2 separate regions of the Homo sapiens genome follow, and region 1 is linked to region 2. The links come from fine-mapping of genetic effects on gene expression. A gene starts in region 2. The other region holds a variant in brackets. All regions are shown on one strand. Distances are from middle to middle. Region 1 overlaps SH3GLB1 (SH3 domain containing GRB2 like, endophilin B1). Region 2 holds the start of SH3GLB1 (SH3 domain containing GRB2 like, endophilin B1).

The links. PIP is the estimated chance that this variant, and not a neighbour inherited with it, causes the effect. A credible set is the group of variants that fine-mapping cannot tell apart.
Region 1: its variant is the best candidate, but not a certain one, in a credible set for the expression of SH3GLB1 in skeletal muscle (GTEx, PIP 0.63).

What each region holds. Positions count from the first base shown.
Region 1 is chr1:86,747,884-86,764,085 of GRCh38, reverse strand. It overlaps SH3GLB1 (SH3 domain containing GRB2 like, endophilin B1), which reads right to left. Exons shown (of 9, transcript NM_016009.5): 9 at 15,902-16,202. Among named protein-coding and RNA genes, the nearest start is that of SH3GLB1, 51 kb to the right of the region's middle. RefSeq lists enhancers at 8,046-8,546, 10,218-10,277. The variant C/T (reference allele first, on the strand shown) is at 8,218.
Region 2 is chr1:86,694,159-86,709,321 of GRCh38, reverse strand. SH3GLB1 (SH3 domain containing GRB2 like, endophilin B1) reads right to left here and starts at 4,746. Exons shown (of 9, transcript NM_016009.5): 1 at 4,351-4,746. The coding sequence starts at 4,422. CLCA4-AS1 (CLCA4 antisense RNA 1) reads left to right here and starts at 4,829. Exons shown (of 5, transcript NR_135837.1): 1 at 4,829-5,715; 2 at 11,560-11,623; 3 at 12,089-12,301. RefSeq lists a silencer at 4,093-4,582 and enhancers at 4,407-4,908, 5,473-5,542.

The sequences.
Region 1 (16,202 bases), 54 kb before region 2:
TGAAGTGGGAGGATCGCTTGAGCCTAGGAGTTTGAGATTGGTCTGGGGAATATAGGCAAGACCCCATCTCTCGAAAAAATAAAAATACAAAATTAGCCAGGCATGGTGGTGCACGCCTGTAGTCCAAGCTACTTGGGAGGCTGAGGTGGAAGGATCACTTGAGCCTGGGAGGTGGAGGCTGCAGTGAGCTATGATTGTGCCACTGCACTCCAGCCTGGGCAGCAGAGCAAGATCCTATCACATTTAAAAATAAGAGAAAGAAATAAAGAAAGAAAGAAAGAAAAGAAGTTCCCAAACTTTTTTTATTTTACAGCACATTTAGTGTCTCAACACTTTTTTCATGAAAAAAGCCAAAAGAAATATCTAACACTTCTGTTTATTAAGTAAGTCCAAATAACTTAATAGTAGTATTTGTTTAGGGTCTGACAGATGTGTCTGGGCTTCCCCTGAAAAAATTTAAAATGTTCCACAGTGCCCCCGTGAGTTCACTACGGAATACTTAGTATATGTTTGTCATTATGAACTTAAGGCATAGAAAGTCCCTAAGATACTGCGGGGCGCGGTGGCTCATACCTGTAATCCCAGCACTTTGGGATGCCAAGGCGGGTGGATCACGAGGTCAGGAGATCGAGACCATCCTGGCTAACACAGTGAAACCCCGTCTCTTCTAAAAATACAAAAAATTAGTCGGGCGTGGTGGTGGGTGCCTGTAGTCCCAGCTACTCAGGTGGCTGAGGCAGGAGAATGGCGTGAACCCGGGAGGTGGAGCTTGCAGTGAGCAGAGATTATGCCACTGCACTCCAGCCTGGGCGCCAGAGTGAGACTCCGTCTCAAAAAAAAAAAAAAAAAAAAAGAAAGTCCCTAAGATATAAAGGTTCTTCACAGGGATAACTCATTATCAACCCTGAATGCCAGATGCATCCATCGGGTTTGTTATAGAGTGGTCTTAGCCTAAACAGATGGGACCCAGAGTGACTAAGTGCTGATGGAAGAAAAAAGTTATAAAGGCCAGGCTCCAAAGTGCTTGTGCTCGTCAGATAAACCTGTGAGGCGAAAAGACTGCAAACAGGAGGAGAAAGAGAAAGGCACTGGGAGCCCTGTGTGGGGAGCTCTCAGAGCCATATGAAGTGAGAAAAAAGGGTAGGCGATGAAGCGAATGCAAGTTAGCTATGCCCTGTGGGGTCTGTAGCCCCCAGCATGTACCCATTCAAGTGAGAGCCCCTCCCCAGTGTGAGAGGCCGTACCGACGGGCTGGCTCACTCTCTTTAGTTGGACCAGCACATTGATATTCCTGATGTTCCAAAGTTACCCCCCGTTCTTTGCCCTACCTGTTCCACCTCCTATGTGAGCTTCCGGGATGGGCAGGACAGACCACCTCGGCATCCCACTCACTTTGTTTCTGTACACAAACATTTGCAAGACTCTGCCTTGAGCCAGGTGCTCAGGTGCTAAGGATGAATGAAACGCAGTCTCTGTTGATTTGCTTGGAGCGGAATCTCAACATCTACCTGCATGACCTTTAGACTCTCCCAGTCTCTTTCCCTCTTGGCTGGGGGATTTTCAGGTTTATCATGTTTTAGGGAAATATGGGTCTCTTGACTAGCTCTGTTCCACGTATTGCCTTCGTACTTTGACAATTCATTTCCTTTCCCTGACTCACGGGGTAGGAAGAAACTGAGTGAGAACTGTAAAATACCTAAGACTCTAAAATGACAATGATTGCAAGATGCATCCAATATTTATATATCCCCAATAAACAAAAAAAACCTGCCAATTATAGTTGTAAGATATCACTGGTTTTAAGGTATATCTTGTTTTTAGAAATGTTGAAATGTGAAAGACAGGGTGTGTCTTAGAATAGATAAACTATGGTAACATTGAGTAAGCATCTATGATGGTTAGGCATTAGGGACTAGGCACTATTTATGTTATCTCAGTTAACCTCTACCTTCTGTACCTATCCCTAAAGATCAATATCTGCATAACTAAGACATATTCAATTTTTTGCTACATCACCAATAGACTGACCTCTTAGTTTAGGTTTCTCCTAAAGCAGAGCCCAAGTCAAGGATTTACAGAGGAAGGTAGTTATTTGTGAGGTGATCCCAGCAAGCAGGTGTGAGGGGACAGGGAGAGTGCACAAGGAAAAGGAAACAGTCAATCAAGTGTGCATTGTCAAGGTCACTGCTCTAGGCTAAAGGGGCTCAACTCTGCAGGGACCATTGAAGCCTCCAGAATTGTCCACCCATAGGAGAGAAGGTTGGGGCATTTGCCTAATGGCTCCTGTTTTTCTGTGGTTGAGAGTTGTCCCTGGGGGCTTTGACTACACTCTCTCTCTCTGGCTGAACATGATTGTGGGCTGAGTGGGCTCCTGTGCCTTTTGAGAAAGTCTTGTGGTGGAAGAACAGTCAGGGTACACTTGAAGTGACACTATCCATCACAGCTGCAGGTGTGGGTGACGGGATGAGATGCAGGGCAACAAGGGCATCTGCCACACTCATGAGAAAACATGGGTGGGGCTGAGACTTCTCCTTGTGCCTAGCCTAGTTATTGGGATACATTTCTATCATTTGCAACTTTGAGTTCTGATGGACCCAATCATTTGATGAGTCGGAGGACTTGGGACCCCAAGTTTTAGTCTTGCCTCTGTGTGGTCTTGGGTAGGAATCTTCACTTCCCTGGGCCTCAGCTTTCTTCTCCGCTGAATGAGGGAGGTGGACTTCATAGGTTCTGAGGGGTCCCTTGGTCAATATTCTGTCACTTGACCCCATGTTTCTGTTGGCTGTGACTATACTGATGATGAGTTTCAGCATCAGCTACCTTGCTACCCACCCTTTTCTCTTCTTAAATAGCTCCTTGAAGACCACACAGACAGTAAGGGTTGAGACTAGGAGTTACGTGCAGGTTTGTCTGACTACACCAGATGACCCTGATTCCACTTTATAACACAGAACTCAAATCAAATTTTCATCTTTCTTGAATCCATTCATTCATTTAATGAAATTTTACTGAGTGCCTACCCTGTGTCAGCTGCCATGCTAGACTCTGGTGTATGGCAGCAAACAAAAAGACAAAGTCCCTGTTCTTTTGGAATTTATGTTCTAGTGGAGAGGGACATATAATAAGCAATTGAACAATTAAGTACCGAGGGGAAGGTAAGTGCTATGAAGAATAAAGCAGGGTAAGGAGATAGAAAGTGGTGGAGTGTTATTTTGTACAGGATGCAGGCTGGTGGCCAGCAAGGTCTTTGCCATGACCTTCATTGGTATGGCAGATGTCTGAATGCCAACCTCTGATGGTTGACAACACTTCCCTAATCTCTCCCTCTGCTCCCTTCCATTTCTAGCTGGATCCTTGCATGGAAGGTTGTATTTTCCAAAGATGGCTGTAACAATATCTCCTACTCCACATGCTCCTCTTATAATGTGGCTTTGATGTGCCTCTCATCAAGAGGTGGGATCTATGCTCCCTCACTTAAAATGTGGGTGGGTTTCTGACATTGAAAGCAGTATTATTTTGTGACTTCTGAGGCTGTCATAAAAAGTGATGCAACAAGCAAAGAATTGAACAGATATTTGCACACCTATATTCATAGCAGTATTATTCACAATAGTCAACAGGTGGAAGCACCCCAAATGTCCATCAACAGATGAATAGATAAAGAAAATATGGCATATACACACAATGGAATACTATTCAGCCTTCAAAAGGAAGGATATCCTGTCATGTGCTGCAGCATGTGTGAACCTCAGGGACATTGTGTTGGATGAAGTGGACCAGTCACAGAATGACAGATGCTGCATGATTCTGCTCGTATGAAGTATCTAAAGTAGTCAAATACATAAAAACAGAAAGTAGAACACTGTTTTCCAGGGGCTCAGGAGAGAGGAAAATGGGGAGTTGTTGTTTAATGTGCATAGAGTTTCAGTTTTGCAAGATGTAAAATTTCTGGAGATTGGGTGCATAACAATGTCAACGTACATAACACTAGTGAATCATACACTAAAACATGGTTAAGATGGAAGATTTTTATTATTTTTTTTTTTTTAGGTGGAGTCTCGCTCTGTCACCCAGCCTAGAGTACAGTGGAATGATCTCAGCTCACTGCAACTTCTGCCTCCTGGGTTCAAGCGATTCTCCTGCCTCAGCCTCCTGAGTAGCTGGGATTACAGGCGCCCACCACCATGCCCAGCTAGTTTTGCATTTTTAGTAGAGACAGGGTTTCACCATGTTGGCCAGGCTGGCCTTGAACTCCTGACCTCAGGTGGTCTGCCCACCTCAGCCTCCCAAAGTGCTGGGATTACAGGTGTGAGCCACCGCACCCAGATAATGTTATGTGTTTTTAACCACATTAAAAAGAAAAAGGTGATACAACTTCCACTTTGCTTGCTGTTAAAACCTGCACTTGAGTCCTGTGCCACCATGAACATGGTCCAACTACCCTGAGGCTGCCATGCTAGGGGGAAGCTCAACTCACCTGTGCAGAGAGACCACAGGAAGTAGCCCTCAGATTACAAGAATAAAGAGATGTATGGCCAGCCTCCAGCTTCTCCAGCTGCCACCTGACTACAACCTCATGAGAAACGCTGAACCAGAACGGCCCCAGCCAAGTTCTTTCCAAATTCCTGATCCACAGAAACCTTGAGAGATAGTAATTGTTCTTTGATGCTACTAAATTTCGTCAAAATTTGTTCCATGGCAATAGCTAACTGGACACCTTGTCTCAGTCTCTCAGGTCAATTCTGACCACAGGGAGAAAGGATTTAAGTAGCTCTAGCCTATCACTGTGCAGTGGCTGATGGTCTGGCCCTGTAGATGCAAAGCTCCTTGAGAGAAGAGCTCTGTGTCACCACTGTAGTAGTTGTGGCCTCATCCTCCAGGAGTGCTTTCTATATTTCATTCTACAAATATTTACTAAGAGCCTAATAGACTTCATTGAACTCTAGCACAATCCCTAGAATATATTAAGCATATAAGATATGCTCCTTGCTTTCAAGGAATGTAATTTAATGGAAGAAACAAACATATAAGCAAATAATTTCTTCCTAATTAATTATTTTCTTTCATTGAAACACAATTAACACAGGGGCATAATTTAGCCCGGAGGAGAGTCAGGGCAGGGACCTCTGAGACAGTGACATGTAAGTTGCAACTAGAAGGATAAGAAGTCATTAAAAATATGCTTGATAAATGTGTTTACCTGGGCTTGCTCTGAGCTGTGAGTGTGATCCAGGTCTGCTCCACAGGTCTCTCATCCTGTTTGAACTAGTGCTACCAGGGCGGACATTTCTCATGGTGCTGGCAGAAGCCCAAGAGGGCAAGCCCCACTGTGCAAACACATTACAGGCCTCTGCTTATCATGCCTACTAACATCCCAACATCCCATAGGACCAAGCAAGGCATGTAGCCGAGCCCACCATCAATGGGGCAGCCAAGGACACTCCTCTCATAGAGGTAAGAGTAAGGGGTGTGTCTACCCACTTTTTGGAGACAATCCTCTACAGCGGTCAAATGTCCTATATCCTCAGCTATTAAGACCCTTGCTTGGGCTCCTGCTTTTTAATCTATGCTATTGCTTTTGTAGATTGTGCTGACAAACACTAGGCTGTTCTCCCAGGCACTTCTAGCCAGGTCATGCCCCCTTGCCTGCTCCCTGCAGCCCTCCACGTTGGCCCATGCCAATGCCTTGTTTGATTCTCCATCCTTGTCAGTCCGCTCCATTTCACAACACTTAACTGTCTGTGCCAGCCGTATCCAGCTACGACAAGAAAATCTGATGAAAATGTAAGGTGCTGGCAAAAATCATTTTATGGAAATACATGAAAAAATCATCTAAGCTGATTATAGTATTGAAGAAGAATTGAACTGGAGCAGGATCATAAAACTCACTTATAGGGATGCCATGAAAATTAGCTAGTCAGTGTTCATGGTTTGAACATAAAACAAAAATTGTTATTGATTTACATATAATGTCTTTGTGGGGTCTTCCAAATGCCTCCTCAGCTAATATATAACAGAAATGGGGAAACTAAGTGTTAAGTTTAGGACCCAACCATCTTGCCTTTAGTTTTGTTTGTTTTTGTTTTGCCAGTGGTAGTATAGATAGCAACCTTCCTCTCAGCACAGAGAGCTGGCTGTGGACCTAGACATTGTGAAGAATTGCAGTGTGGATTGCAAAACACCATCGCATTCATAAGTCATGGCTTATTAGATTTTTGGTGAAAAACTTCAAGGGGCATCTGTTTTCTCTCCTCTGTTCTTGCCCCACCACTCGTCACCAGTAGAGACTGTTTTATAGTAAATTATGGCCGGTTCTGCAGCCTGATTATTCAGGGCCTGCTTGGCTTGGTGACTATTTTCTTCTTGCCAACGGGCATTCCTTCATTTCACAGCTTCTTAGCCCTAGCTGCTGAGAGTAGAGAAGCGGAAATGAAGAGGTGGGACTCAAGCCAGTTTATTACGCCTCTTGTTGGTGGTGCTGGTAAGGGCTTGGCAGGGAAAGGAAACTGGAACTACGGCCCTCATCAGCAGAGGCAAGGGAGGTGGGGTCCTGCGGCTGCCTTTCAGCGCTGTGTCCAGTGTAGGGGGCAAAACCTCCTTACCCTCAAGCCTGTCTTAGCAAGGCCAATTGCGAAAGGCTTTTTCGTGGGCTTTGGCTGTGTTCAGAGTCAAATGACATTCTGATGTAATGATAATGGTCCTAATCACAAGAGGATGTTCTCAGTGAGTGGGCACCAGGCACCGTGCAAAGTGAGTTATTTCACTTAATCCGCACAAAGACTCTAGAGGTGGGAACTATTACGCAGAAGGGGACGAACTTGCCCAAGGTCATGCCTCAAAGCAGCAGTAGAAACTGTGGAGAATGGAGCAAGCTGTTTGTTCTCCAGTCCAAGCAGCTCTGTCTTCTCCCTGGCCCACCCCACGGACACCTTCCTGTTCACGGACCTCCTCCTCTTCTAGAGGCACCGAAGCTTGTGTGGATGTCTCTGTCATATTCTCCCTCACCTTTGTGGAGGGATTCACCAGACCTCCTGTCCAGCCCACTCCCCACCTGCTTGTGTGTGTGATTTCCATGTGTGCATTGTGGGAGCTGACTACACAGCAGAGCCTCAGCCCAGCCTCGGGTCCTCTTCCCCGCTTTCAGGCAACTAAAGGCCCACAGGTGGTTGGTCACACTGACTTTGGATCCAGACTGCCTGGGTTCTAATCCTCCATCACTTGTCACCTCTGTGACCTTGGGAAGTCACTTAACTTCTCTACGCCTCAGTTACTTGAGGCTAACAATTGTGCTTACTGCCTAGAGCTGCCTTGGGGGTCCAATGGGATCATGGGTGTACAGTGCCGTCAAGCACATTGTAAGTGCTCAAAAAACACGAGCTAGTATTATTTCCTACTACATGCTGGTTACTGCCCTGGAACTAGAGGAGCATAAAAAAGCCTGGGCTTGGAGAAATTTAGGGGTCTTCAACAACTCTGCACTGTTCTGGGTTCGGCTGCACCATCAATTTTCAGGCACATTGCAGATTAAGTAGGCTTTGGTGCACTGACCTAAGAGCCTCATCACCATTTATATTATATAAAATGTACTCTGTTTTCCAATCAACTGAGTTTCCAAAGAAGCTTTGGACAAGTTACTGACAGAGCTAAGTAGACTGGAGACAGAATGGAAGAGGTGCTCATTTCCTATACCAGGGAGAGGTTAGAAAGAGTCCCTGCTTACACTGAGAAGGGGGTTCTCAGCCCATTGTCAATACCATAATAGTGGGTGTCACATATGTTTAAGGAACATGAGGGAAGGGATATCAGTTCCTGGAATAGCACCCACTGGGCAGGAACATCAAACTGTGCTTGAGTTGTTTGCTCAGCTGTATTTCAGAGGCTGCACTCTACCTTGGTTATAGATAGGATAAGTCTCTGCTCCTATCCATTTTAAACACTGGCCATTAGCCAAGTTAAATGGTATAATAGTGCATTGGGGAGTCCTCTGTAGACATTGAGAGCAAGTGTTTTGGAGTTAGGGAGCCCTGGGTCAAAGCCCAGGCTCTACCACTCTACCAGGCTATGTGATTTAAGAGCCTTCACTTCCCCTTTTGTAAAACGCAGATAAGAGTCATACCTACCTCTCAGGTTGTTAAAATGAGATAATGAATGTAAATCACTTTAAGCACAGCGCCTTGTATGCAGCAAGTACTTAAGTTACTGCAGCTATTATTCTTT[C/T]ACTTTTTGCCTCAAGTTGCAAGGTCTCTGTTGATAGGACTTTTGGGAGAGAGGAACTGGGGAACGGACTGGGGAAGACAGGCAAAGGAATCCCTGCTCAGCCACCCTGCCCATTACTGTAGTTCCTGTGATCAGTGATGTGAAGTTACCGCAAATATAGTGAATGACCGCAAATAGAAGGTGATCTTTCAACTGCAGCCAGGTGGTTTTGTTTTTGTTTTTGTTTTTTTTTTTTGTTTTTCCGAGACGGAGTCTCACTCTGTCGCCTAGGCTGGAGTGCAGTGGCGCGGTCTTGGCTCACTGCCAGCTCCGCCTCCCGGGTTCATGCCATTCTCCTGCCTCAGCCTCCCCCGTAGCTGGGACTACAGGTGCCCGCCACCACGCCCGGCTAATTTTTTGTATTTTTAGTAGGGACAGGGTTTCACCGTGTTAGCCAGGATTGTTTCGATCTCCTGACCTCGTGATCCGCCCACCTCGGCCCCCCAAAGTGCTGAGATTACAGGCGTGCGCCACCGCGCCTGGCCCAGGTGGTTTTTAATACAGACACATGGCTGATAAGAGCTTAACAAGTTTCTGGATCTATTACCAAACTCAGGTCATTGTTTTTGCATTTTGCATTGGAATGTATGGATATATGTTCTCCAAACTAGGGAAATATAGATATGACCAGTGGTCTCTCCAATTCTGAAGCAGTGAACAGACAGCTGTGCTGTGTGTTCAGCAAACTCTGTAGTATAGCATTGTCACAGTAGTAAAGAAGTCACTATTCCAGCAAAATAATCCAAACCCACAAAGTTAATCCAACCCATTTAATAATATGCATCCTAGTTGTTGTGCTGTATGGCAGTGAAACAGAAATGATAAACTATTTACAAATATGACTATATTTTCCTTAGTTCCTCCATTGAGCAGTCATATTTTCAGCCATTCTCTTTGCTAGTTGTTCAGTGTGTTCATGGTCAGTATCACTGTTGACACATTTCCCCCATCCAAGCCACGCCTTCTGCTACCTACTGCCCTTCTTCCTTTTCCCTCCAGGGGCATTCTTTTCCTCCCCCAGGACCCATAGATCCTTTAGTCTCAGCAGCCCACCTAGCTCAGCTATCCGGGTGTTGGGGACCTCAAGTTTGCAGAAAATGGTGTTAAAATTAGCTAGAGTGGGCTCATGCTGGGAGTCAAAGGAAAAGTGGGAATGGGCCATGAAGGAAGGTCTAGAGCACTGGCTTCCTGTGCCTGGCAGTCTTGGGGTAAAGGAATGTTGCATTAGCATCGAGAGAAAGAAGAAAAGGGAGATGTTACTCAGGAAATCTATTTTCTCTAGAGATTCAGGAGTCTTGAAATGAGCTTAGCAGATTTACACTTAATGTCTCTATCTAAACTTTGGTTTTCTCATCTGCAGAGGAAGGACAATCTCTACCTCGCAGCATTGTTGCAGGAATGAAATTAGAGAATGTGTAAAGCACCCCACACAGTGACTGGCATGTGGTAAATGCCAATGATTGGCATCTATTTTTAAAATAATGTGCTCTTGTCCTGCTGAATAGGGCATATAAACCCCTCAGTGGAAACTGAGACACTGGCTAGAAAGAAACAATAAAATTATATTGCTGTCTTACCTTGATAAAAGACAGATACATAGAACGTATTCCCTTACAGCTGAATTTCAAAATAAACTTCCAATCCATGGACTCTTTTCCCTGTTCCTGGAAAAATTATATCCTGAGCATGTTCACGTGCTTACCAAATTACTCATTAATGAGTGGTCTATTTATTGGATAGAGTCAGTAAAATGATATTACATTTTAGTTTCATTTGATAGCTTGGAGGTATTTTGGGGGGGCTGTCATTATCATCTTTCATTGTTTCTGCAGGTGAGTCAGCTTTGAGGTGAGAGACAGGTGGTTTCTCTGCTATATGTAAACAAGTGGCTCTCAAACATGTGCATCAGAATCATCTGGAGAGCTTATTGAACCACAAGATGGCAGAGTCCCACCCCTGACAGATTCCAGGACCTGCACTTTGAGAAGCCCTGACTTAAACCAACACTGATTTCTCTGCACTTTCAGCTGTGGCAGTGATGGCACTGGCAGCTCCCTGCTTGGCTTGATGACCTTTGTAGGTTTCTTTAGTTGGTTAAGCAGCAGTTTATAGCTGCTTTATGTTAAGAGCAATACTTTTTCTGCCCCAAGAAAAGTACTAACCTGGGAAGAGTGCAGGAAATAATGGACCATTGACCATATGTAGGGGGCACATTCCAAAAATAGGTGTCTGTGTTCCACACTGATTAAGAGCTTGGGCTTTGGAGTTGGGAAGGCAAGCAATGAGACTTCTTTGCCATTTTTCTAGTTGTGTGGCTTTCTAAATTCTGTTTTCTCGTCTGTAGAATGGGGGAAAGTATACTTTCTTGCCAGGTTTAAAGAAGGTAAAGCACATAAAGTGCTCAATAAGTGTTAGCAACTTTTTCAAGGGGATGTAAAAGCCCAATGATGCCTAAGACTGTGAGTGCCACTGTTCATATATACTCATTAGAATTCACTAGAATGTCTGAGCACAGAGTTGGTCCTTTTGAGGTCTAAGTCAGTCCAGGTAGAGAGGGATTTCTAAAGAATTTCTCACAAGGTGTTATTCAGCCTTTTGTAGAAAGCTCAGACTGAAGAGCTTTATACTCTAAAATATAAAGAAAACAACCCCATCAACGAGCTGCCAGTAGAAATGTGTATGCTGTTCAAGTTAATTCATAATTGTGGGTTTAACATTAGTTATTATTAAAACATGAACAACTTTGGCTTGTTTAGAACATGTTAGGAAGCAAGAGCTAGATGGACCTTAGAGATCATCTGGTTTAATCCTTTTATTTTACAGATAAAAAAATCTGTGGGGCTGAGAAATTAAGTGAACAATTTGCTTGAAGGTACGCAACCACAAATTTAATTTCTACTGGACTTGCTAGGTAAATGCTCTCAGAAAGAATGGCTTGTGGACGATTATAAAACCACTATCATTTCAGTCTTCTGTAACATGTAATTGATTTACATTCAAACAGCCTGGGTAGAAGGTAAATTCATTTAGTTTCCTAGGGTTATTATAACACAAATTTATCTTGAGGCATTCATCAGGAAGTTACATGAAATAAAGCTGGTCATTTTATGAGTATATGATAGAAATTGTTTTATAATCACACCATGCAATTGGAAGCATATGCTTTGAAAAACTTCAGGTGAATATGATCATGGTGATATTCTATGATGTGGCAGTTGCTGTGGCAATAATGGGGCTGGAAGCTCCATTATTGAAGCTTCAATTGTCCCATTTTTCCATGTGTAGAAGCAGACCTTGACTGTTTTCTGAGAAAAATCTTGACCCTTTCTCCAAGTACTGTTTTTTCTTTCAGAAATGGAGTGACTTTCTATATAGATTTCAGTCAATTTTTAGTGAAAAGAATTTAAACTCATTTTCTACATGATTGGTTAAAATATAAGGATTTGTACTCCATATTCTTGAGATCTTAACCTCCAGCCTTCAGCTGCCAAATGTCTATGAAAAGCTTTGTTATGAGAAATATATACGAAACTTTGCCTGAAAAGTGTGTAGTTCATTCATTACTTTAAAAATTGTAATAGTGACAAAATAGTAGTTAGAAATTGTTAAGTATTTACTGTATGCCAGTTACTGAGTCCAGCCCTTATGTGCATTATTTCTTTTAATCCTTGCAACTGGTGTTTCGCCCACTTTGGCATGCATCAAATCACCCGAGGGCTTGTTAAAACGCAAATTGCTTTGACCCATCCTTAGGGTTTCTGATTCAGCAGCGGCCCGAGACTGCATGTCTAATAAATTTCTAGGTGATGCTGATGCTGCTGGTCTGAGAAGTACTGTTTGCTACAAACCTAGGAGGTAAGCATTTTAATCTGTACTTTGTAGATGAAGAAACAGGTTCAGGTTGTGTCACTTACTGAACACACAGTTAATAAGGTGGTAGAGTTGAGATTTGAAAATTTGCTTTTTTGATTCCAAAGTCTATAGTCAATTTCTGTGCTAGGTGGTTTTGCAATAAAACATTCTGTCTGGGCTGAATAGTAACATTTTATAGTTCAGGAATAGAGTAGGACTCTATTGCTCCTAACACTGGGGTCCAAATATATTGAAGCATATGGATGCCATGAGATGGTACTAATCAATGCCAGAGTGTGGGATAAAGTAATACGGCCCTTAAAAGGGACTTTATCATGAAGGTAGAAATAGACAGGTGAGCAGCTCCCTGACACCAAGGGGAGCTATGGGACAAAGGGGAGCCTTGGTTCCAGGACTGCAAAGTGTCCAACAGTGGAATTTATCTTCACCAGACAATCTGGTGAGGGCTTTCTCCTGGGAGAACTGGCTTTGTGTGTGTAAATTTAAAGAGCTCTTGTACTTAAAAGAGAGCTGTGCTTTCTGGGAAGCCTGCGATTGAGTGCTAATAGGGAAGAAATGGCTCTCATCATGCCATAGAACTCTGACTTTCCTCTCTGTCTGAGGCAGCAGTGAGCCAAGCACTGTGGGCTGTAGGTAGCATTGAAGAAGGGGGTGGGTTAGAGGTCAGCAAGAAACACAACGTCTGGGTAACATACTTGTCACCACGTGGTTGCCTAGGCAGTGGGCCCCTGTTGTATCAGTGAGGAAAACTCTATCATGTAACTGAGGTAAGATTTTGAATCTTGATGAGCAACCTTATTGCAGGCATTCCATACCCACTTCTGTAGAATGGGCTATCAGATGCCAGTGGTGACCTTCCCATTTTACCGACTTTCAGCATGCTAAACCTCAGATTCACTGGCAGTGACCGCAGAAAGTTTCTGAGGCAATTAGGTTAGGAGTGTGAGCTGGGATAGAAGGCCTGTCTTCACTAGCAGGTAGAAAGAAGAGGATTGACTGTGGATGTGTCTCTGGAGATTCTAAAACATACACAGGCGAGGGGAATCCTCCACTTGCTGATGATCGGACAGGCCACGGCTCAGCGACATTGTGTTTCAGGGTGTTAATGTGAATAATTTTGTGCCCATTTATACTCTCAGTTTGATGAAAACTTCAATGCAGCAGTCATGTACAATTTAATCCATGAATCAGTGCCAGCACTGTGGCCTCTTAACTCCGCTTTGGTGTTGATGTCTCAGTGCTCTCTTTATGAGTGCTTCTTTATGAGTAGCTGTCTCCTGAGCAACCAGCATGTTTCTATATGTGAACAGTCAATCTGAAGCCAGATCATACATCTTTCTTTGGTTCTCAGAAATCTGGGTCAGATTTGTCATTCACAAATATCAATTGATCAAGATCTTCTATTATACATTTTCTCATGTAAATTTTTTGAAAGAAGGGAGAGGGAGAATGTATAGAAATGGAAAAAAGGAAGGGTGGAAAAGAGGCAGAGAAAAGGAGAAAGGAAGGAAATTTAGCCCATTTTACAGAAGACATCTATATAGAAAAGCTCAACAATGGAAATACCCCCATCCAACCTTGATGTGACTGACCCTAAATTTGAAGTATAGATGTGGCCAGCAAAAGTCCATGCTGTAACAAATTACTGTTTTGTAAAGTATGAGTCAGTGATGAGCACCGTAAAATTAACCAGAGCCAATGAAGTAATAACCATGATGATAGATTCTGGGGATTACTCTCCAAGAAAAGTAGATATGTGCTTTCTGTAATATTGGTGTCCTAAACAGCCAATGTTTCTTAGGGCAAATACACATAATAGCACCAAATTTGAATCATTAATAGATTTTTTTGCAAATACAATGCTGCAAGCAAGCTATGAGCTTGCCAAAACTCAGCTTTAGGTGTGCTAGGTGTCAGGGGACACAAAATCCTGTCCTTCAAGTTGGCAAGTAATTGTGATCCAAGGCAAAATGCATGTGATAGTTGTGTGTGTGTATGCAATTCTGCCTGCGGAATCCAGAATCTCTTCATGGAGGAATGAGAGTTTGAGCTTATTCTTGACAAATGAGGATCTTCAGGTGAAGCTGAACACAAGAAAATACATAGAAAAGGCAAGCAGGTATCAAAATGCCTGGTTGTTGGGAACTGCCTACTACAGCTCAAGCTTCAGAGAACTTTACTAGAACATGAGACTGAGCAGAAACATGTGCCCTAAACCCTGGTGCATCAGACTCTCAGAAAAGTTGCTTATAATGGTAGTCCATCTCACCTCCAATTAGCTATTCGTCTTGTTCTCGTAAGCCTGAAGCTTCCTGTATAGCCTTCCTTACTTACAACCCCCTTAAGTCCTCTTACTACTCATTCTTTATTGGTTGAGCAGTTTGAGTTATAATCAACAGATGTTAATTTAAATTTATTATGGTTCATCCAAATATTAAAATGGGTTGGTCTGTGGGGTTTTGCTATGATGACTGCAGCTCAACCCTGGGACATCTATCTTTTTGAATACTGCTGAGCAACTTTTATAATTCAGATACTTCTTTAAATACATTTCTCTCACTATGGATGAATCAATTCTGTGATCTCCAGTCCTGGAGATGCTACTGAGACTTAGCTAATTAACAATACTGTTACTGAGCTGAGTCACCTGTCCTATGTCAGGCTCTCACATAGAGGTACAGCCCCCCGAAGCACTGAGATCAGCTGTGGGCCAAGGGTGGGGGAGTATCAGAAGGGGCAGTTTGGCAAGGTTTACCACTTAAAAAGACTGTGATTACCACTTTCGTACACTGTTGTTAAGCATGGTAATGTTGAAATCTTCCACTGTACATCTTGTCTGAGAGTTTTATCTGGTTACATTACTTGAATACCTGACTGGAAAAAATGAGCCAGATTCCATAAGAATGAGGATTGCGTAGGTATAAGGATATACAAGACAATGCTCATTCACTGTGACAGCTTTCAAGGAAGATTTTCTTTGGCAATGGCAGTGATATTTACTCCAGAGGTTGACAATAGCAAATGCTCTAACATGCTCATCTATAAATCCTAGTAAGCCATAATATTATCCACTAGGTGCCAGCCACTCTTCATAATATGGTTAATCCTTTCAATGCTACAAGGTAGGTTTATAGTATTCTAATTCTAGAGATGAGTAAGCAGGCTCAAAGTGGGAGAGGTTTAATGACTGACAAAAGGCCAGGAAAACAAGTGGGAGAGCCACTGTTCTGCCTACCTTCCAAAATCCTACTTTCCCCACTACGGCTACATTCCCTAAATCCATCAACAGTACACCTGCATCAAAGATACCTCAAGATTCAAGTCTACTTAAGATTGTTCTTCTACTGTCTTTGCAAATGTCAGAAAGGTAATAATGCTTCCAGGAGACTGAATAAAAGCAAGAGGCAACTAGTACTACAAACATTTCCAAAGTAATACAAAATATATGATAAAGAGGGAAGAACAGTAAATGAATGTCATAATTTAAGAAACATTTAAGACTGGACTTTAATTTTGCAGGATCTTTTTATCTCCCTCTTACCCTTTATTTTTAAACCAAAGACTCCAAGAACATTCTAGTTGGAAGCCCTCCAAAAGAAACAGTATTCTCTCATATACTGCTGATAAAAGTATAAATTGCTTAGAGTTTTCTAGGGGGCAACATGGCAGTAACAAAAGCTTTTAAAAACTGGCATACCCTCTTCACTAGCAATTCCACTTCAAAGCATTTATCGTGAGAAAATATGAACACATACGAGATTTAGCAACACAATGTTCTTTAAAGCACTTTATTAATGAAAGTTGGAAACCTAAAAATTGAACAGTAGTTTAATAAAATGTGGCACATATGATGGAATATCATGCAGCCATTAAGAGATGTAGAAATATACTTGACACAGCAAGACAGTCATGGTATTGTTGAGTGAAAAAAAGTTACAAAACAGTATGTACACTTTGATCCCATTAAAAATATCTATAAATGCACAGAAAAGTCTGGAAGGCCATATACTTAAATAACAGTGGTTCTCCCTGGATGATGGAATTATCAGTGATTTTTCTTTCTCACTGAATCT
Region 2 (15,163 bases):
ATTAAACTTCACATATGGATGGTAATTTGCCTGGCTAAAATGATATAAAAGATGAACCATGTTAGATGTTGTAAGAGGGGAATAAGAAACAGAGTTGATGCCTTAGCACATACAAACTTATTAAAGAAAGTCAGAGTAACAGAACTTTAGAGTTCCAAGAGATCTAACATAACAGTTCATTAGAAGAAAAGTGCCACCTCATCATTTGGAATTGAAAATGATTCACGATTTCACAGCAAGCTCTTGTGGTCTAAGAAGCCTTATCAGCTGAGATGGATTTGAAGCTATATCTTTAAAAAAAGTTTATTTTACTTTTATTTTAAAATTTTTTTTACTCTCTCCATTTTGGAGATGAATAAAGTTGTATCTTAAGGAAAGGAAAGAATAGGCAGACAGGACACTTAAGAGGAGTCTAACCATATGAACAAAAGCCTAAAATAAGTAGAAGATATTTTGGAAATTAAAAAATAATTTGGAATACAGTGTTTATATAAGTGAGAGAAAGGACCAGATTGTAAGGGAGTATTTAATGCTCAACTAAGAAGTTTGGACTAAAAAGATGGATTCTAAGAATAAATGGCATTTAAAACTCTAGTAAAATAACAATTAAGCAAGGGTGAATTACCTGATACTTTTGTATTTTACCATCTTGAGGTACTTAAAAACAAGCACCCAAATGGGCTAGTTAAGAATAAACATTCCTACTCATTTATACATTCTAGTCTAACATTCTTTTTAAAGTACCAAGGCTTATAAACAAATTTTAAAAGGAGGGAAGTGGAGTGGTGATGGGACGCATCTATGTGCTTTACTAGTTTGAGCTGACCTTTTTTTAAAACAAGAAACATGTTTAATTTTTAACTTAGAAATTTTTAAGTAAAATGGAAAACAATGTATGGCGTTGGCCAACCAAAGAATGGCATATTCCTTACGGTACAATTTGATTTGAATGAAAATTATTATTTATAAACGTGAATGTTTCTCTCTCTACTGTTCTTACTGCTTATAAAGAGATATTGGCATAGCTCTTAAGCTATTCTTAGCATGAAACTTGGTACTTTGGCATTATACTGATGTCAATGCAATTTAATGTAGGAACTCAGTGATGAAATAAATACTGAGATGAGAAAGCAGTGTTTTGTTGAAAACTACCACACAGCATTCCAAATTTCACATGTTCTATTTTAGAAGCATCCTTTTTTTCTTACAAATTTTATCTTTAAAAAAGTATTATGGAAAATGTCAAACATACAAAAGTATAACAGTATAATGAAACCTCATGAACCCATAACCAACCTTCCACAACTATCAACATTCCGTTGCTGTTGTTTCAGCGACTTCTGTTTTTTTCTTTTGAAATATTCAAACGCTAATCTCAACTGGTGTGGTGGCTCACACCTGTAATCCCAGCACTTTGGGAGGCCGAAGCAGGTGGATCCTGAGGTCAGGAGTTCAAGACCAGCCTGACCAACATGGTGAAACCCCATCTCTACTAAAAATGCAAAATTAGCTGGGCGTGGTGGAGCCTGCCTGTAATTCCAGTTACTTGAAAGACGGAGGCAGGAGATTGGCTTGAATCGGGGAGGCGAAGGTTGCAATGAGCTGAGATCGCGCCATTGCACTCCAGCCTGGGCAACAAGAGCCAAACTCCATCTCAAAAAAAAAAAAAAAAAAAAATACCCTGTAAAAACCAAATCTCAGATATGATATAAGTTTATCCATAAACATTTCAGTATGTATCTCTAACAATTACAGACACATTAAAGAAGTCTGTTTCTCCTAAAATTTTTCCCTTAATAAACGGCTCAAGCCAAAACCTTGGAGTCATCCTTAACTCATCTTTCTCTCATACCTCACAGCCAATCCAACAGCCAATACTGGATAATTTGGAACCTTCACTGCTACCACTGTAATCTAAGTTACAATCGCCTTTTACGTGTATTATGGCCACAGCTCCTTCATTGGTCTCCTTAATGCCCCTGAAACTTCAGTCTTTGTACTTCTTCCTGCTGCCTGAAATACTTTTATTCCAAAAAAAACTAGGTCTGTCACTTCCTTGAGGTCTCTTGAATTTCATCCTATTAGAAAGACTTGCCCTGACCATCCTATCTATACACGATACTAATGTTAGAAAATACTAATAAAGATATTAACAACCACCATCTCTGCGTTATTCTATTCTTCTGGCCATGATTTTTATCACCACCTGATGTATTTACAAGCTTATCTTCCGCTACAATGTAAGCTTCAGGAGGGCAGACACTTTGCTGATTTTATTCACTGCTGTATCACCAGTGTCCACAGTAGCCACAAGCAGACATCAGACATGCAGTAGACACTTAAATATTTAAAACTGAAAAGAAAATTATTTGATGGCTAACAGATTAGCATAAAATTTAAAACTTTTTCCTAAAGAATTTGAAACAAGGAATTAAAATTCTTTGGGAAGTACACATTTTGAGAGCTTTGCTAGATTTAATTTTTTAAATTGAGTCTATCCACAATTTAAATCAGACTAAATTCTAGTAAATGTGTCCTCTTTAAGGGGTGTGAGTTATACGTCTGAAACATATTTAACTGTATTTAAAAGAGTAGCATTATACAGTGTCAAATCCTCATAAGCATCTAGAATTATAGGTAATGAGCACTAGGACAAACAAAAATACCAAGGGCTCTAGTCCTCTATTGCAGTCAATGTTAAAAGTGTACAAGTGTCTCACACATCAAAATTCATTTCACACCCTCAATCACTCATTCTTCTTGCACCTTGTCTTTGAACTATTAGAAGCTAGTGAATTTAAATCAAAACATTATTTTAACTATAAAGGCTCAACGTCTACAATATATCATATTTTAGGGAAGGAAGGGAAGAAAAGGGTTAAGGCAGCTAGCTTATTACTCACCATGCAGATTTTAGAACTTAGAAATCAAAAGCTAGAAGGAATTTACCATCTCTAAAGTGTTACTTGCTTGTTGATATGGAAATGCTCAGATTGAACCAGATGATTTTTAAGGTCTCTCTAGGCCACAGCATTCTATTATTCTAGCTATCTTAAATCTGGAATGCTTATCCCGGAAGAAAAAGCAGCTGGGAGTACTAGGTCAGACAGCACCTGGTTATTTACTAGTTGTGCAAGTTTCTTAACCTCAGTAAGGCTGCTTCCTCACATATATAAAAGGGGTTAATAACATCTATCTGGCAAAGTTATGGAAAAGACTGGAGATAATATGTCAAATGCATTACAAAGTGCTTGACAGGTTTTTCATAATATAGGCAGCTATTACCTTGCTCTAGCTCTACTACTCTTTTGCCAGGGATAGTGCAATGTAGGATCAACTGTGCCAACAAAATTGGGGCAAAGGCAAGGAAAGTAGTAAAGCCACAGAACAGATTTACATTTCAGCACCAATTTGGTATGCATATTAGAAAATTATTTTTGTTTTCTTTTTACAAAAGAGAATGTTGTTGCTACCGTGACCGTAAACACCAGATTGTTTATAATTCATGTTGTGAAATTTACATCTGTTCACAGATTTACTGAGTTGGCATAACATGGGTGATGACTGTGGGAAACGGCCCAAGTTCCTTAGTACTGACACTTCCTTGATTGTAGAATATCGAGAGGTAGTCAACTTTTCCCCTTAAAGTATATTTAAAACATACTACTGTGACTACAGCCATAACAATATCCCCGCATCTCTCCTTGATCTACAGCTGGTGCTTCCCATTTTGAAAAAGAGTGAAAACCCCCCAACCCTAGGTTTCTTGTGGTCTTGGCAAAGTCTCAACGCCAACTGGCGATCTCCATTTCCCCCGCGGGCTGCCAAGCCCAGGACAGTCCTTTCAGGGAGAAAGAGGGCCGGAGGGAACTGTGTTGGCAGCTCTCTGGGTTGAAGGACAGGAAAAGGAAACTCCCTTCTTGGACTCCGAGGGGAGGGTGAGAGACGAAAGGAAAGGGTGGGGGGTAGTGCAAGAATGGCCTGTGTCTCGGTTACCGCAAAGGACTCGCAAGCCTCCGCCAGCCCCGGGGTGGAGGCCACAGGAGCACTGACGTCGTGGTATCAGAAAGGCGGACAGTGCAGCCTTAGTGTTCCCCAGGGGTGGGAGGAAGCTCCCGGCCCCGTCCCCACCCCGCCTCGCTTCCCAGGGAGCGGCGGTTGGGCAGGAGCGGGGCAGAAATCCGCCGCCGGGCCCGGGGAGGGGACCAGGCCGCGCCCATCTCCCAGGCCTCTGGCTGCAGCAGGCCCGCTGGGTGGTCGGCGAGGCCCGGGGGCGCCGCGTCGAGCTGCGGTCCCCTCCCTCAACCTTCCCGGGCGCCGCCACCCCTTTTCCCCCCAGCACCAGGGTACCTGCACGGCGCGACTGAGGAAGGTGCCTGCGTCGGCCGCCAGCTTCTTCACGTTGAAGTCCATGATATTCATCCTAGGCGGCAGCCGGGCGGAGCCGGCCGACCTAGCGGCGGCGAGGCGGAGGTGCCGCGGCCGGGCTGGGGCGCAGGGCTAGAGCGGCGAGGGCAGACGTGGTAGGTGGAGGGAGGCGGCGCCAGCCCCGCAGCCGCAGCTGTCGTTTCCGTGAACGGGGAGGATGAAGGCGGGGCGAGGGAGGAGAACAAGCGCGCGGCGGCAGCGCCAAGGATGGGTCAGTCGGCTCGGAGAACGGCCGCTAACGTCGACGATGGGCCCCGCGGGCGAGCCGGAGATGGACGGGCGACCCCGCCGTGTGGACCCGGGTCCCAAGGGAAAAACAAGCGCGGGCCGCGGGGCGGAGCCTTTCTCGAGGTTATCGCGGGAACAGCGACCCCTTGAGGATTGCGGCGGCGCAGCCCCGGGGCGCGCCGGGAGCTCCGCCCGGCTCCTGTGGAGGAAGCGGCGAGGGCGAGCCGCGGGGTCTCGGCGCCTCTGTATGCTTGCACTTAACGAGAACCCAGAGCGAACACGACCCACATTTCTCTTTTTGTTTTAAGAGGAAATATAGGAGTTACAGCATAGAATTACAATATCTGGACATTAGAAATAACAGGTCCCGGTCACGGTATGGCACCGCGCGACACACTTGGTCCCTGAGGCCTGGATGCCGCTCAGCAAACGTTCGCGGAATAGGGTTGGGTTTACTGTCCCCCACCGAGCCGGTTGCTCATTCATTCAGCATAATTGAATACCTCCTGTGTGCCAGGCACTGAATCAAGTGTCGGAGACAATGTCCTGCCCTCAAGCTCCTGGCCGGTTACTTGACAACCTTCCGGGACCTCAACGCTATGTGCCTACTGTGTGAAAGCAAAGTGCCAGGTGGAGGACACAAAGATGGCGAGCGACACAGGATAGTCCTTAACAATTAAGCGTGACTAATTTTAATAACAAATGAGAATATGATGTGACATCCGTTCCAAATCCTGTCGTTCCAAGTAACTTCTTAAGCATCTTTCACGATACAGCCTCTGCTTGAAAGGAATTAAAACAGGTACAAGCATGGAAGGAGACGTTGCTATCATATTTCAAGAATAAGAAAATGCTGTTTTGTGTGGTTGTGCAGCAGGCAATGAAATGAGCTTACATTCAAGCTTCCGTGTTTTACTGAAACAACAGTCACAGATGCAGTAGATGTTAAAGGTTGAAAGACGAGTGCAGTAAAAGCATTATGAGGACAAGAAGAAAACGTAAATATTTGTGTTGTTTCATTCTTTGTTGTGGTGGCAGAAACAGCCCCCTCTTTCTAAGGTAACTCCAATATAATGATCTCTCCCAGCTTTGAAATACTCCATGTCTGTTTCATTTTCCAGAAATATGGAAAAATGAATATATAATAAAAAACCCTATTTCTCATTTATTGTCTATTTTAGATCTTTATGTGGAAAAGCACTTACTCTCTTCCCAGAGCACTGTTTTTAAAGTAGGTATATTTGCCATAACCTATGCTCGTCTCTACAAAAGGATCACACCACCGTGTCCACCATTAAAGGGGAAATTCTTTAATGGTGGACACAGTGGTGTCCCTGAATCCTCATCCTCAAGTGTTTCAATCTTCCCAGTCTTGGGAAAACAACAATGTTACTTCTTTCTTTTGCACCCTCTGTAGCTGTAATCCTGTTTCCCCATTCTCCATAAAAGACTTACCTTATTTTCATATATCCTTATTCTTAGCCTTTGACACTTTTTTTTTTGAGACAGAGTTTTGCTGTGTCACCCAGGCTGGAGTGCAATGGTGTGATCTCAGCTCACTGCAACCTCTGCCTCCTGGGTTCAAGGATTCTCCTGCCTCAGCCTTCCAAGTAGCTGGGATTACAAGCATGCATCACCACGCCCGGCTAATTTTTTATATCTTTAGTAGAGACAGAGTTTCACCATGTGGGCCAGGCTGGTCTCGAACTCCTGGCCTCAAGTGATCCGCCTGCCACAGCCTCCCAAAGTGCTGGGATGACAGGTGTGAGCCACCGCACCCAGCTGATTCGCTTTCTTTACAGAGAAAATATAAATCATCACTCTGTTTGGCAGAAGCCTCTTCAACCAAATTTCCTTATTTCCACCTCCTGTTCTCTCCACACTCTTTCCTGCATCATTGCCAAATGTTTCAAAGGAATAGGTGTCTCAGGTGTTCTGAGTAGAGCCACTGCTCCCTTAATCTTGGCTGCACATCAGCATCACCTGGAGAGTTTAAGCAACCACTGATGCCTGGATCCAGTCCCAGAGTGTGGACTGGGCATTGGGATGTTTTAGGAGTTCCTCTAGGTGTTCTTAATGTGTGACCAAGGTTGAGAACTAATTTGTCACCCTCTAGAACTTGCTCCATCAGTCTCTACCCTTTGCCTACAGACTGATTCTACTTCTCTTACCAGATATCAGTCCCTTAAGGGCAGTGTCCGTTTCCTATTTATTTTTATATATTTTATGGTTTACACAGGCAACATAGTGAATTCCCAAATGATTTAGTAAGTGAAAAAAGTAATCAAATCAAGATGTTTACAGTGCTAAGCTCTTTTGTGACACCATCACCCCCAGCCTAAATTTCCAACTATTTATCCATAGATTCAATATTTCCAGTGGCAAGTCTGTTATAGTTTGCTTTTCCTGAAAATTCTTCTTTTCTTGGGTTTCCTACATTGATAAATTGAATCATACACACCAAATCACCTAAGCCAGAAATCTGAGTCCCCTTTGATTATTTCCTCTTATTTCCCACCACCAATTGGTCTATCCTGGCAATTTCTTCTCTGAAACTGTTTCCTATTTTTCATTTTCATCCTCTTTTTAAAAACAAATTTTTTAACTTGAAACAATTTACAAACTAAGAAAACTGTTGCAAGAATAGTACAAAAACTTCTGTGTACCCTTTGCCTAGAAACCCCACTCAAACTTTGCCAATTATTCCAATGTCTTTACAGCAAAAACGTCCCAGCCAAGAAAGATCATGTGCTGCATCCAGTTAGCTTGTTGCTCAATTCTCCTTCAGTCTGGATCAATTATTCAGGCTTTTCTTGACACTATTCCTTCCCCAGAGTTAGCCACTATTTTTAAATTGGTATGATTAATATCTGTTATGTTTTTGTACTTTCACTGAATTTATATGTATCTATGAATGGTACTACTATGTTATATTTTTAAACTGCATAAATGATATCATATAGATAAATCCTTTTGCATTTAGGGGTCTAATACTTCTATTTGTGTATTTGATGACCTTTTTGTTTGTGGATTGATTCCTTTTGCTTTGTACATTGATTCCTTTTAGCTTTTTTTTTTATGGCTCATTTTTAGTGATACAGAAAAAAATGTTTCTTCTGTCAGAGACCCCTAAGGTTATCACTGGCTAGTGAGCAATTTTTACATGAATTTCTTTCTTGGCTTAGAAGTTCTAAGATCATTCAGATATTATAAATTTGAACCCAGATTTGTGGGAGTACAAACTATGATTCAAATTCTCAAGGGAGAGAGATCTTCCTTGTTTTTTTCTCTTTCAGAGCTTGTGCCTTGACAGAAAAGCTTCTTACTATGCCAGAAGAAAAGCTTCTATCTAGTCTACCCTTTCATTGAGGGTACAGAATTTCATGGGTTTTTAACTTATGTGTGTGTGTGAGGTCATGAAGTTGGGGGACAGGGTGTGCTCACAGTTAACTGATTTCTGTTTGCACCAAGGGCCCAAGGTCTTATCACAAGTTACCGTGTATTTTTAAAAATTATAAAGGCCAGGCGCGGTGGCTCATGCCTATAATCCCAGCACTTTGGGAGGCTGAGGTGGGTGGATAACTTGAGGTCAGGAGTTCAAGACCAGCCTGGCCAACATGGTGAAACCCTGTCTCTACTAAAAATACAAAAATTAGCCGGGTGTGGTGGTGGGTGCTTGTAATCCCAGGTACTCGGGAGGCTGAGGCAGGAGAATCACTTAAACCGAGGAGGTTGCAGTGAGCTGAGATCACGCCATTGCATTCCAGCTTGGGCAACAAGAGCGAAACTCCATCTTAAAAAAAAAATTAATGAAAATTGACAAATGATAATTGTATATACTGTATTGTATACAACCTGATTTGTAATATGTATACATCTTGGAATGGCTAAATTGAGTGACTTAACATATGTATTACGTCACATACTTATTTTTATGGTGAGAACACTTAAAGTCTGTTCTTAGTGATTTTGAAGAATACAACATGTTGTTAACTATAGTCACTATGTTGTACAATAGATCTCTTGAACTTATTCCTCCTATGTAACTGAAATTGTATATCCTTTGACCAGCGTCATCCAGCTCCCTCACTCTCTCCCAGCCCTTGCTAACCACCATTCCACTCTTTGCTTCTATTGAGTTCAACTTTTTTAGATTCCATATTTAAGTGAGATCATGCAATATTCATCTTTCTGGGCCTGGCTTATTTCACTTAACATAATGTCTTTAAGGTTCATCTATGTTGTCACAAATGACAGGATTTCCTTCTTTTTAGAGGCTGAATAGTTTTCCATTGTATACATATATCACATTTTTAAAATCCATTTATCACCTCATGGATTTAAACATTCAAGCACCATCCTCATTCAATCCTTTCTCCTCTCCAGACAGGGTCATATTCTGTATTCAAGACCCTGGTGTCCAGTTTCTTTTTTTATTTTTGCCACCTGAATATTTCCCTGTCTTTTTTTTTGTAAGCTCAAGTATGCATTATTATTAATTAATTAATTTATTTTGCTGCATTTTACCCAGCATTTCTAAGTATTTGTAGTAGAAGAGTTTTCATGTTATCTAGTCTGTATTGATTAAGGACTGCTTATGTTCAGCTCAAGTAACAGAAACCTAGCTGTAGTGACTTACCCAAATACTGATTTATTTTCTCACCCTCTAAGAAGTTCAGAGGTAGGCAGTCTTCTGTGTTTTTGTTTTTCTATTCTTATCATGTAGCTTTCATCCTAATGTCTCAAGATGGCTCCTGTAATTCTAGGCATTAAATATGTTTTTAAGGCAGAAAAAGGATGAAAAGTAAAGGCAAAAGTACATGCCAACTGAGTCTACTTCTTACTCCTTAAATCAAGAAAACAGCTTTTTCATAAACCCCACGTAGTAAACTTTGGTTTACATCTCATTAGCTAGAACTGGGTCGTTTAGTTCTCCGTAAATGCATTAGAGACTGATAAATGAAATGTGCCCTGTTGAAAAATAAGTATTTCAATTTTTTATATCTTTAAAAAAATCTATATCAAAAATACATATATATGTATCTATATATCTATATATATCTATATATAGATACATATAAATTCAGTTGAAAGTATACAATCATAATAGAAATTAGTATTTTATTTTTAAATCTTTCTTTATTTCTTAAACAGCACTTACTGTCATCCTGAACAAAAATGGGGTTTCTGTTAGCAAGGCAGAAAGAGAATAGTTATAGGGTAAGCAACTATCAATGTCTGCCATGCTGCTGTAAGGCAAGAATTGAAAGTCTCCCATGCTCACTGAAACTTCCTTTCAGTTTTTAGACTGATAAACAGGGCCACTTACATAATTCGCAGGGACCAATGCAAAACGAAAATATGGAGCCCTTTGTTCAAGAGCAAAAGGAAAGTGCTGTTTAAAGGTATTAAAATAAAACTTTTTCCTTTATTTTGTGATCTCTTTTGACTTGTCATTTTTTTATTTGCTGTTTAATGTCATTCTAAGCAAAGAAAAGATTATAATTTAAATTATTAGAATGATTTTTACCATACATCTTCATGTTGTACAATGACAGTGTTATGTTATGTTATGTTATGTTATGTTATGTTATGTTATGTTATGTTATGTTATGTTATGTTATTTTTTGAGATGGAGTCTCACTGTGTTGCCCAGGCTGGAGTGCAGTGGCACAGTCTTGGCTCACTGCAACCTCTGCCTCCCGAGTTCAAGTGATTCTCCTGCCTCAGCCTCCCAAGTAGCTGGGATTACAGGTGCCTGCTACCATGCCCAGCTAATTTTTGTATTTTTAGTGGAGACGGGTTTTTGCCATGTTGGCCAGGGTGGTCTCAAACTCTGTAATCTGCCTGCCTCGGCCTCCCAAAGTGCTGTGATTACAGGCATGAGCCACCGCGCCCGGCCCTACAATGCCAGTTTTAAAACAAATATAAGAGCATTTCCCAGCCTCACTAATTATCAGGGAAATGCAAATCAAAACCGCAATGCAATACCACCTTACTCCTGCAAGAATGGCCTTTAATTAAAAAAAAAAAAAAGATGTTGGCATGGATGTGGTGAAAAGAGAACACTTTCACACTGCTGGTGGGAATGCAAACTAGTACAACCACTGTGGAAAACAGTGTGGAGATTCCTTAAAGAACTAAAAGTAGGTCTACCATTTGATCCAGCAATCCCCCTATTGGGTATCCACCCAGAGGAAAAGAAGTCATTATACGAAAAAGATACTTGCACATGCATGTTTATAGCAGAACAATTCACAATTTCAAAAATATGTAACCAGCTCAAATGCCAATCAATCAACAAGTGGATAAAGAGAATGTTGTATATATTTTCTGGAATACTACTCAGCCATAAAAAGGAATGAAATAATGGCATTCATAGCAACCTGGATGGAATTAGAGACCATTATTCTGAGTGAAGTAACTCAGGAATGGAAAACCAAGCATCGTATGTTCTCACTCATAAGTGGGAGCTAATCTATGAGGACATAAAGGCTTAAAAATGTTTCAATGGACTTTGGGGACTTGGAGGAAAGGGTTGGTGTGGGGGTGGGGCATAAAAGACTACACATTGGGTACAGTGTACATTGCTCGGGTAACGGGTGCACCAAAATCTCAGAAATCACCATTATGGAACTTATTCGTGTAACCAAACCCCACCTGTTACCCAAAAACCTATTGAAACAAAAAAATTATAGATAAAAAACAAATATAACAGCATTTAAGATGTATGTAGAATCATTGAAATTGTACAATTTGTATTTCACAGTACACGCATGCATATGTATTTTGTTCTTACTAAAACAGTGGAAATGCGGCATGAAACTAAATCAATTTTTAAAAATTTTATTTCTTGATATGTGCATATTCCACCAATACTCTACTTTTGGCCTGCTGATGAAGAGTAAGGAAGGACTGAAAGGAGGAGAAACTATGGGTTGCCTTTTCCTTCTGTCATCTGTTCAGCGTAAGTGGTTGGCAGCTTTAAAAAACCATTTACTTTGTACTCTCATTGGTCTTCTGGAATTCACTACTCATAGATGTATTGAAAACACTATATATGAATGGGGCCTCAAGGAACAGCAGCAGACATGTGTCTGTAAGTGCTGATGTATAAAGATTTCCAAGATACCATATTAATAAAAAAAGTGTATGGAACAGTGTATGGGTAATTGAGTGTAAATAAAAAGGAATATGTGTTATATATATATGTAAGTACTTTGTATATGCATAACTTGTAAAATAAAAATAATTTTAAGAAACTACATATAGCAGTTACCTTTGGGGAGAAGGTATGGGGTAAGGAGCGGGAAGGGTAGGAAGCTTTCACATTTTATTTTGTATCTTTCTGTACTTCTTGGATTTACAACATGTGTATGTATATGTAGATATACACACATGTATAACATTTCTTTCATGTTTTTATTTTTAGATTTCATAGTAAAACCTTTGTTGATTTAATAAACATAATGGATACTCATTAAAATATTCAAACAGCATAGAAAGGGACAAAGAAGAAAGCAGCCAGCAATCCAAGTACCACTATCCAGAAATAGCCAGTGATATCTCTTTATGTGTGGAAATACAATGAAAATTGAGTGAGAGACATACACAGAGGAAGAAGAAAAAGAGTAAGTTATAAAAGGTATTAAATTAAATTAATTTAAATTTAGCAGAAATAAAAAACAAGTAAAAAATGAATAAACCTCATGTTATTTCTTTCCCACAGAGGTATTAGATCCTACAAGACCCCTCTTGGAGTCATTTTATGTGAGGTTTTCTTCTTCCTTCTTCTTTTTTCTAAATCACCTGTTTTAATCTTAGACATCATCTATTAACTTACCATGTTAAAGATGAGGTAATTAGAACTTATTTTTTTCTTTCGTCTTGCATTTGTCTCTCTACCAACTTACATTGCTTTTATTATTTTTACTTTGAGTTAAGCAGTGAGTCACCAGTAATGTCCAGTGTTATTGGAGTATGTAGGAAAACAAGCATTCTCAAACACAATATGAGGAAGTGCACATTGATAAAGATATTTTGAAGGGTAATTTGGCATATTAAGTAAAATTTAAATTTGACCCAGCAATTCTACTTATAGCAATCTATCCAAAGCATATTTGTACAAAGATAAGTATACAAGCTTTTGTGCAACACTGTTTTTAATACCAAAGAGTTGGAAATGTTAATCAGTAAGAAAATGGTTTTATGAAGTATGGTGCATTCGCAATGTGAAATACTATAGAAAAGTTAAAAGAATTATGGAGACAAATATGTACTGAAATGGAAAAAATTCTAAATTATATTGTTAAGAGAAAAAAGAAAGTCATACAATATACCTACAGTGTGATTCCATTTTATTATGAAATAATATAAATATATATCCACACATTCACACTGATACAGAATTATACATACAGAGAAAGATTGGGGAGAGGAAAAGGACTGGGAAGGTAAAGAGGAAAGTTCATATTTAATCCCATATACTGAAAATCTGCCTTTGTGTTTTACAACAGGAATGTATACGTTGTATAAAAGGCAGAGAAAAGGAGAAAAAACAGTCTCTTCTCCAATATGTGTAAGGAATCTAATTTTAGGTAGTATTTCTGGTTTAATGATTGATATAATGGGCAAATCTGCTTTCTATTTCGGATGAGAAACAAAGCAAAACAAAACACCCTAGCTTTTGACATAATCTGCATGCCTTGCCATAGATGTTAGCCAACAAACCAAAACTTCTCCTCACCTCAAAATGACATAATTTCTTTCCTATTACACTTAAGATCCTGGAATCATGTAGTTCACTGCATTCTTCAATCTTGAATAAAAGTGCTAGACTACTGGCAATGCTATTCTCTTTCAAAGAGCTTCTTTCCCATTATGCCCATGTTTTTACTTTGAGGACTGAATGCTCATTCCACTTTAAAATAAAGCTTAACTATAATTTTATTTTATACTTTAGTTACTGATATTACCTTGTGACTTGAGATGAAGACTAAAAGGAAAAGTAAAATAACAGTTTGGCTCACATTGTTGGAATTTAAGTTAATATGACTCATACTAGCAATTAGCTTCTTGTCCTGAAAGGTAAATATCAGTGTATTTACTGACGCTTTGAGGTATGGGAGTAAGGAGACAACGCCACCAAATTATGTGGTATAAGTTTAAGCTCTTAAGTTACCAAGGAAAAACTTAAAAGGATCCACTTGCCAGTTACTTACCAATATGATCATCTAACAAACACCTATTATGAGCAACCCCTATGCTAAGTTCCATGAAGGACAGCAATATAAGATATAATCTTTTTTTTGTTAAACGATGTGCATACGTGAGATAATATGGAAAGTTGAATCTAAGAAAGCCTGGCTTGGGAGGTATTCAAGTGGTCGTGGTAGAGTTAAAGATACCCAGAAGTCTTCTAAGAAGCACAAAACATGATTCCTGTACTCAGAGACATGCAGTCCTATTCACATGCAAAGAGGACCTACACTGGCTATTGCCAAGTATCAAGCGAGGTGAGTGCTATCATAAGTCACAGAATGGATACATTATTTGAGTAGTCAGATAAATCTCACAGCATGAGGCATAAGATGTCTAATAATGTCTAGAAAGCAATTGGAAATATGTGATTAAAGCTTGGGAATGAACACTGGGTTAAAGATAGACACTTTGGAGTCATTTGCATGGCTGTGATAAATAAGATTTGAAATAGAAGATAAACAGAATGAAAAGTAAAGGAAGATTAAAATCTGAAGAAAACAGCAAGACACTGTAAAAATAAAGACAGTTATAGAACTGACATGTTCACAAATATTAAGCAAAACAAGAGTTAACTAAGTGGACTGCATTCAAAAAGTTTAAGTAATCTTTTTAACTTTTGCTTGGAATATTGCTGATCCTTGTTTTGTTTTTCAGAGTCAAGGAAACTTATTTTAAACTATTAATGGCCATTAATAATTGAGTAAGGTATACTACTGTAAACAAAATTTGGAGCATGTTCATTTATCTCCACCTGGTTCCTCTAAAATTTGGAGACTACCTGTAAGTACTCTTAACTTATGGCAGTATAGTTGTTTGCATCAGTGCAATAAGAATGCATTTTTCTTTGTCAACAGGACACAATTGGATAAACTGGTTATTTTACCAAGGCTTTGGCTGAAATGGTGTGTTTCCCTTTAAGGAATCAAGCTTGACATGCAGAGCCAATAAAAGCCCCTTGGAGAACTGGCCTCATACCTTGTCTATACAGTCCCCGCACAGGGTTCCTAACCTGTAGTCAATAAAGAATGTCACTTTCTAACAGGTCTGGAAGCTCGGAGTTTCTCTTGGGACCTCAAGAAGTGAGGATCACCCAACTCACAGGTATTTGAGGATACAGACCCATTGCTGGGCTCGGCTTTAAAGGTCTTATCTAAGATTCCTTGTGGAACAGAGTTTCATCAAAGCCAATCCAAGAGACCTATGTAGAAATAACTATTCTTACTGCACTTCATGCAAATAATCAAGC